2 linked regions of the Homo sapiens genome follow. The protein of the gene in region 1 purifies or fractionates together with the protein of each later gene. This does not show direct contact. Each region holds a gene or a part of one and is shown on either strand. Other genes may lie near its edges. The genes, in order: PPIP5K1 and BUD23.

The links.
Region 2: the proteins of PPIP5K1 (region 1) and BUD23 fractionate together in Homo sapiens (co-fractionation; one large-scale study listed by BioGRID). This does not show direct contact.

The regions. Positions count from the first base shown.
Region 1 is NC_000015.10:43,566,171-43,569,987, reverse strand, and holds part of PPIP5K1 (inositol hexakisphosphate and diphosphoinositol-pentakisphosphate kinase 1), read left to right. Parts: intron 1-652; coding exon of another isoform or gene 653-802; intron 803-1,434; coding exon 1,435-1,525; intron 1,526-3,817. UniProt on the Homo sapiens protein: Bifunctional inositol kinase that acts in concert with the IP6K kinases IP6K1, IP6K2 and IP6K3 to synthesize the diphosphate group-containing inositol pyrophosphates diphosphoinositol pentakisphosphate, PP-InsP5, and bis-diphosphoinositol tetrakisphosphate, (PP)2-InsP4.
Region 2 is NC_000007.14:73,693,533-73,696,407, reverse strand, and holds part of BUD23 (18S rRNA (guanine-N(7))-methyltransferase), read right to left. Parts: intron 2,785-2,875; coding exon 2,739-2,784; intron 2,417-2,738; coding exon 2,358-2,416; intron 1-2,357.

The sequences.
Region 1 (3,817 bases):
GTCATAAGACATAGACAGCTGCGTGTGGTGGATCACACCTGTAATCCCAACACTTTGGGAAGCCTAAGTGGGAGAATCATTTGAGGCCAGGAGTTCAAAACCAGCCTGGGCAACATGGCAAGATCCTGTCTCTACAAAAAATTTTAAAACATTATAAGATGGAAAAAAAAAAAAGGCACAGGTAAAGGAAAGCTCTGTGTATCATCTCTCAGACTTGATAAGATTGACTTCTTTCAGGCCTATGGGAAGCTTCCTATTGTAATCACAGGCTTTCTTTTCAATTACTAGTGCTGCTTAGACCCTGGCTTATCCAGGGTGATGGTTGTCCAGGATATTTTCCTCAGCTTTGCAAGAAAATCATCTCTCTGCTCCTTGGTCACAAAGCCTTATGATACTAATGTTAATGTTTATCTTCCTTGCTCTATAAATATAGGCATACAACTTATCCTTCCCTCCATCCCTTCTTCTCCTCTTGTCATCTCATACTTTTTAACTATTTTAGATTATAAAACTTACGACCTTTATAGCAGCTATGCCCTAGCTGGTCATCCTCTCTAGCCCTGTAACTAGCTCTGCCCTGTGGGCCCTGGGGCTTTTGGGAGCCTGGGGTTTAAAGGAGCCGTGACCGGCTTTCCACCCGGTCTGATTGCAGGTCATGAACATGCAGTGCACGGGGAACCTGGACCTCATCCCCTTGCGGGGACGGCGCTGCAGGAGGTCGGGAGACCTCCCCCAGCCTTCCCTAGCCATTGGCCTACAGCCCCGGGCTGTGTCCACCACTCACCTGGCATCCTGCACACAGGTGTCCCTCCCTACCTCACCTTCCTGTCTTGCCTTCTGTCTTTGCCTTTTGGGATCTAGGGGCTCAGACACTATCTGGGTGGGATGTGTGTGTTTTGGGGGTTGTGTGATTGGGCCCTTGTGGGCATTGTAAAAATTCTGTTTCATGTTTCTAGGGGTGAGACAGTGGAGGGGTGGGCTTCTTGGTTCTAACAAGGAATGTAGTATGGTTGCAGTAGCCACAGCTCTCCCATGCAAAGAAGAGAGGGTGGCCAGACTCTTATCTGTGGCTGAGCCATTGTGATTGGCTTTCTGAGTCTGTGGGGGGATAGATACAATTAGGAAACTCTGCTCTGCTGAGAACTAGGAATGGGTTGAATAATGATTTCTCAAACTCAGATTGGGAATGGGAGGGCTGTGGGGAAAGGCATCTTGAAAATAGAAGTGCCTTCTAGTATAGAAAGATGCCCCGGACAGTTCCCTCCATAAAGTACATTCTCTGTTCCCTTTTCATCCCTCTTCCCCTATAAATCCTTTGGTACTTCCAAACTTTCTAACATTGCTTGGCTTTGTAGGGACAGGAATCCAGGACCTGAGTTTTATACTTTGGGGTTGAGGTGGCAAAATGATTAATATAGAGTCCTTTTTCTGCAGGTACTTTCTGAGACTTCATCCTCGAGGCCTGGTGGCTACCGGCTCTTTTCATCTTCACGGCCACCCACAGAAATGAAGCAGAGTGGCCTAGGTATGGTTTTGCCAGCATTTCTCACCTATTGTTGGAAAAGTTGTCTGTCTGTTCTTCAGAGTTTTATTGTGGGAAACCTTTGTCATGGGATTTGGGACCGTCCAATCAGTGGAATATCATCAGGTGGAGGTAGGGAGGATGAAGTGGGAGAAGCCATAGTTAGATGTGAACTTGGATCTCAGATGATTATTCCATCCCAGGAAGGTGTTTATCTCTTGGTTTTCTATACCAACCACATTTCCCTGGCCAAAGGGCGTTTTTCTGGCTTTCCCTCTCATTCCTTATCTGTCCCTCCAGTCTAGCCCAGACCTTAAGGGGCCATGGAGACTCTGAACCTTCAGAGTTATCAAAGACAGAGCTATAAATAGAGGTACTTGCAACCCTCATAAATGTCGTATTCCTCATTTGAAGAAATGTGCCACGTCTTCCCCTGAAACCTGTGTTTTTCACATCCCCGCTCTTGCCCTTCTTACCACCTTGCCCTTTCCTCCATCATCTCCTAATCCTGTAACTTTTTCCCCTTCCTTCTGGAAAATTGACCAGTCTGAGACTGGTGTAGTGGCAGAGGCATCTCTCAGGACTTTGAGGAAATGTCTCTTGATTTTTGGATCCCTGGAAAGGGGTAGAGAACATCACTCAGCTTTTTCTAAGAGCACAGACGGCAGGAAGGACCAAGCCTCAGAGGGTATTGTATTCTTTGGGTGGGGGGCAGTCCTTGGGAGGAACTATCTCTGAGCACAGTGCCTTGTGAGCCAGTAATTAGAACTGGAGGTCAGACATGGTTGTGTGGGGTCTGGTCTTGGTCCTCTGGCTGTTTCTGTCTTGTCCTATTATTCTCTCTATTTAGCGCCTCTAATTGTTCTGTTGCCTTTGTCCTTGGCAGCCATTTTCTTGGCCCCAAAATGGTCAGCTTTTGGACTAGCAAGGGGGAGAAAGGTTTTGGTAACTTTCCAGGCTAATTTTATGAGAATAAGTTGCCTTCTAGATTCCTGAAATGAGGAAGATGGTATGGGGCATGAGAAATAAATGACAAGTGTGTAGATCTGGCCAGGCGCAGTGGCTCATGCCTATAATCCCAGCATTTTGGGAGGCCAAAGAAGGCAGATCACTTGAGGTCAGGAGTTCTGAGACTAGCCTGGCCAACATAGTGAAACCCCATCTCTACTAAAAATACAAAAATTAGCTGAGCATGGTGACGCATGCCTGTAATCCCAGCTACTTGGGAGGTTGAGACACGAGAATTGCTTGAACCCAGAAGATGGAGGTTGCAGTGAGCTGAGACTGTGCCACTGTACTCCAACCTGGGTGACAGAGTGACACTCTGTCTCAAAAAAAAAAAAAAAACCCGAAACAACAATAGTGTAGATCTAAGAAATGAACCTCTCTTCCCAGAAGTCCCAGTAAAGAATAGGTTTCAGACAGACTAGAAAAGAGGATAGGTGTGTCTGTCCCAGTTAAGTGGGCCGTGGGAATGCTTTCAAGAGCAAGGCAGAGGTATGGACATGGAACTGGTTGGCAGATGGTGGTGGTAAGGTAGAGACCACCCTCTGAGATGATCTGAGGACTGGGCAGAACAGAGTTGGCATGACTGCACCAGAAAAGTATTCAGTGGAGGAAGTGTATGTAGGACAAAGCTTGGGGTGGTCTGGGATAGAGCCAGCTAGTTTTAGCTTCTCTGAAGAAAAGCAGTCATATTTAGCAACTGTTATTACTCTCTGGAATCTCATTCCAGAGCCTGTTTGAACATGAAAGGTGGAGGAAGTTGCTGTATAGGGGAGAGGTCCTGAATTCCAGGGTGGGAATCATCAGGCATCTGAACTTCCTGATTGCTCTGGTGACCCCGAAATCCTGGGACCCCTGAAACCATGGTCCCTTCTTGGTGGCCTCAAGGGAATTGAACTCCTTTCCACTCCATCCATTTCCCCTATGAATGTTAAGTCCCAAGCCAAACCCAGGGTCTTGGCTAAGATGGATTTGGAAGTAGAGAGGCAAATCCTGAGAACTTGGGTATCAGTCTTGTTTCTTCTTGACCACTCTGTCCTTATAGGCTATAGTAGGAGAAGGGACCGTGGAGTCCTAACCCTCCTCTAGATCAGCTGTTGGGGACAGTGACTGGTCTGATTTATTTCATACTTCAGAGATTATTCAGATTTTATTTAATCCTCTCATTGGCAATGGAATTCTCTTTGTTTTCTTAGAATTTATATGTGTGGGCAACTGGCTTTGAGCATAGGCTTACATGATAATACACTTTTGCAAGCAGAACAAACATGTCTTTTTGTTGTTATTTCC
Region 2 (2,875 bases), on another chromosome or scaffold:
TCCTAAGACACATGGAGATAAGGCAATGTGTACTTCCCCTGGGAGGGAGGAGATGGGAGTGCTCCCTGGGAGCACGAGATGGGCGCCTCAGAGAAGAGGTCATCCAGAAGGGTCCCAGCTCCCCATGGGGAATGGACTAGGGAAACTAAGGGAAATGAGCAAAGACCCAAGGGGTCAGGCAGCATAAACCTATGGTGGACGTGAGGAACATGCATGGCTGTGCCCAGCTGTGGGCCTTCCAAACACATGCATTTTGGGCTCATTTTTCCTCTTAAATGTCTTAAAGGTCTTAAGACCTTTCCCTCATGTCAACTGGACCTCAGATATAACCTCCCTCTTCACTACCTTATAATCAATTATTCATTCAGAAAAATACTGAGCACTTTTTACTAACAAGACACTATTTTTAATGTCAGGGATATAATACCAGTCCTCACCAAGTTTTCACTCTAGCTGGAGATACAAATAATAACCAAGTCAACTGGTATGTGTATGACTTAGAGCAGTGAAGGGTGTTAAGGAAAATCAACATGAGCGGGGAGCACAACTGCAATGAAGGCACTAAAAGAGCAATGACAAGATACAACTTACATTTTAGAAAAAAAGAAAAAGACCAGTCTTGCTGCTATGCAGAAAATAATCTGAAAGAGGCAAAGACTGCAAAGGCAAGGAGACAACACAGGCAGCTGTTCAGCAATCCAGGCTAGGGGCAGTGCTGGATTAGGCTCGTTGGAAGCAGGGAGGGTCAGCACGGGGATACACACTGAGGGACGGACAGCAGGGCTCAATGACAGGCTGACAAGATGTGAAATGTAGGGAAAGACAGGAATGATCAAGAATGGTAAAGAATGGAGGATGAGGCCAGGCGCAGTGGCTCACACCTGTAATCCCAGCACTTTGGGAGGCCGAGGCGGGCGAATCACGAGGTCAGGAGTTTGAGAACAGCCTGGCCAACATGGTGAAACCCTGTCTCTACTAAAAACACAAAAAATTAGTTGGGCGGGCGCCTGCAATCCCAGCTACTCGGGAGGCTGACGCAAGAGAATCGCTGGAACCTGGGAGGCAGAGGTTGCAGTGAGCCGAGATCAAGCCACCGCACTCCAGCCTGGGGGGAAAGAGTGAGACTCCATCTCAAAAAAAAAAAAGAATGGAGGATGGCCAGGCATGGTGGCTCACATCAGTCATCCCAGAACTTTGGGAGGCCGAGACAGGGGGATTGCTTGAGGCCAGGAGTTCAAGATCAGCCTGAACAACATGGCAAGACCTCATCTCTACCAAAAACTTTAAAAATTAACCAGGCATGGTGGCATGCACCTGTAGTCTCAGCTACTTGGGAGGCTGAGGCAGGAGGATCATTTGAGCCCAGGAGTTCGAGGCTGCAGTGAGCTAAGATTCCACCACTGCACTCTAGCCTGGGTAACAGAGAGAGACTACCCATGGAAACTCCAGGTATAGACACTGAGGGGGCATTGGGAAACCCCAGGTGGCAAGAGACTGAAGATACACATTTGGGAATTAGGACCTTCCGGCTGGCATTTACAGCACCACAGGTAGAGAAGGGATCCAATCCAGGCTGGGCCCAGCACTCGAAGAGGAAGCAGCAGTGGAGTGAGGAGCAGCCAGGAAGGCTGAGGAAACCACGATGGTGGGTGGAAGGCCAAGTGAAGGAAGCGTCAAGGAGGGAGCGCACTGCTGTCTTTGACCCTACCGAGCAGGCACATTAAGGACATGAAAAAAAGTCACAAGTGACCAGATGTGGCTTGATGGAAATTGGTGGTGGAGTTGACAAGAACAATTTGTGATGAGACAGAATTGTCAGCCTGAGAAGTGGATTGAGAGAATGGTGGGAGGGGAAGAAGAGGCAGGTCTGAGTTCTGCTATGAAGGGAAGCAACAACGGGGTGGTTAGTTGTTGTTATGGGGTTAAGGAAGGAACTTTTCTAGAAAAGGAGAAATTGTGCAGCATGTCTGTGTGCCGACAGCAGTGACCCAGGAGAGTCAAGATGAGGATGCAGGAAGGAAGGGAGAGCCACAGCACCCAAGGGAGAGGGTCCCAGATGCAGGTGGAGGGCAGCATCAGAAAAGAAGGAGACAGCCTGCCAGGCGTGGCAAGGGGAAGGGGCATGTGTGGGCTCACAAAGGGAGTCCAGGCTGCATGGCTGCACCCAGACATCCAGGACCCCAAACCCCTAGCCCCAAACAGGCACAGTCCAAATGGGACCTGATGTTTCTACCGTCACCTTGGTGTCCCTGCTGCATGTGACCTGAGAGGCTTGGGTGAGGGCAGAGAGAAAGTCCATGTCTAACAAATGTGGCAGCCCCCGCTGCAGCCGGGGCAGGCTTCAGCAGTTGCTTTACCTCTCATTGGTGAACACAGACTCCCTGGGTTCAACTTCATCCTGATTTTCACTCAGCCCCTGCAGGAACCAAAGTGCACTCAGGTCACCCTGGAGAGTTCTCAAACCATCTGCCCCACTCCAGAAGCCCAGGCACCCAGGCCTGACCCTTCCGACAGGGACGAGGTCCAGTCCCACGAGAAGGAACTGACACGCCTTTCTGGGACCTGCAGAGCAGAGGTCTCTGCCTCCAGATTCCAGAGGATGTGAGCACTCCAGGGTCTGCACTCTGGGGCTGGGCCCTGCTTCCCCACCAGTGTTCTCCCAGCAGGCTCTGCAGGCTGAGCCCCACTGCCTGGAAGTCAAAAGACACAGGCCTGCCTGCAAACCCAGTGTCCCTCACCTCTGGTATAAAGGTCGAAGGCCCAGAAAACAAGCAGAGGTAGAATCTGAAAGGAGAAAGTGCAAAGTGAGGGTTGGGTGGAGAAAGCCCCACAGGGAGACAAGCCCTCAGCTCCCCCACCCGCACCCCCTCCGCCT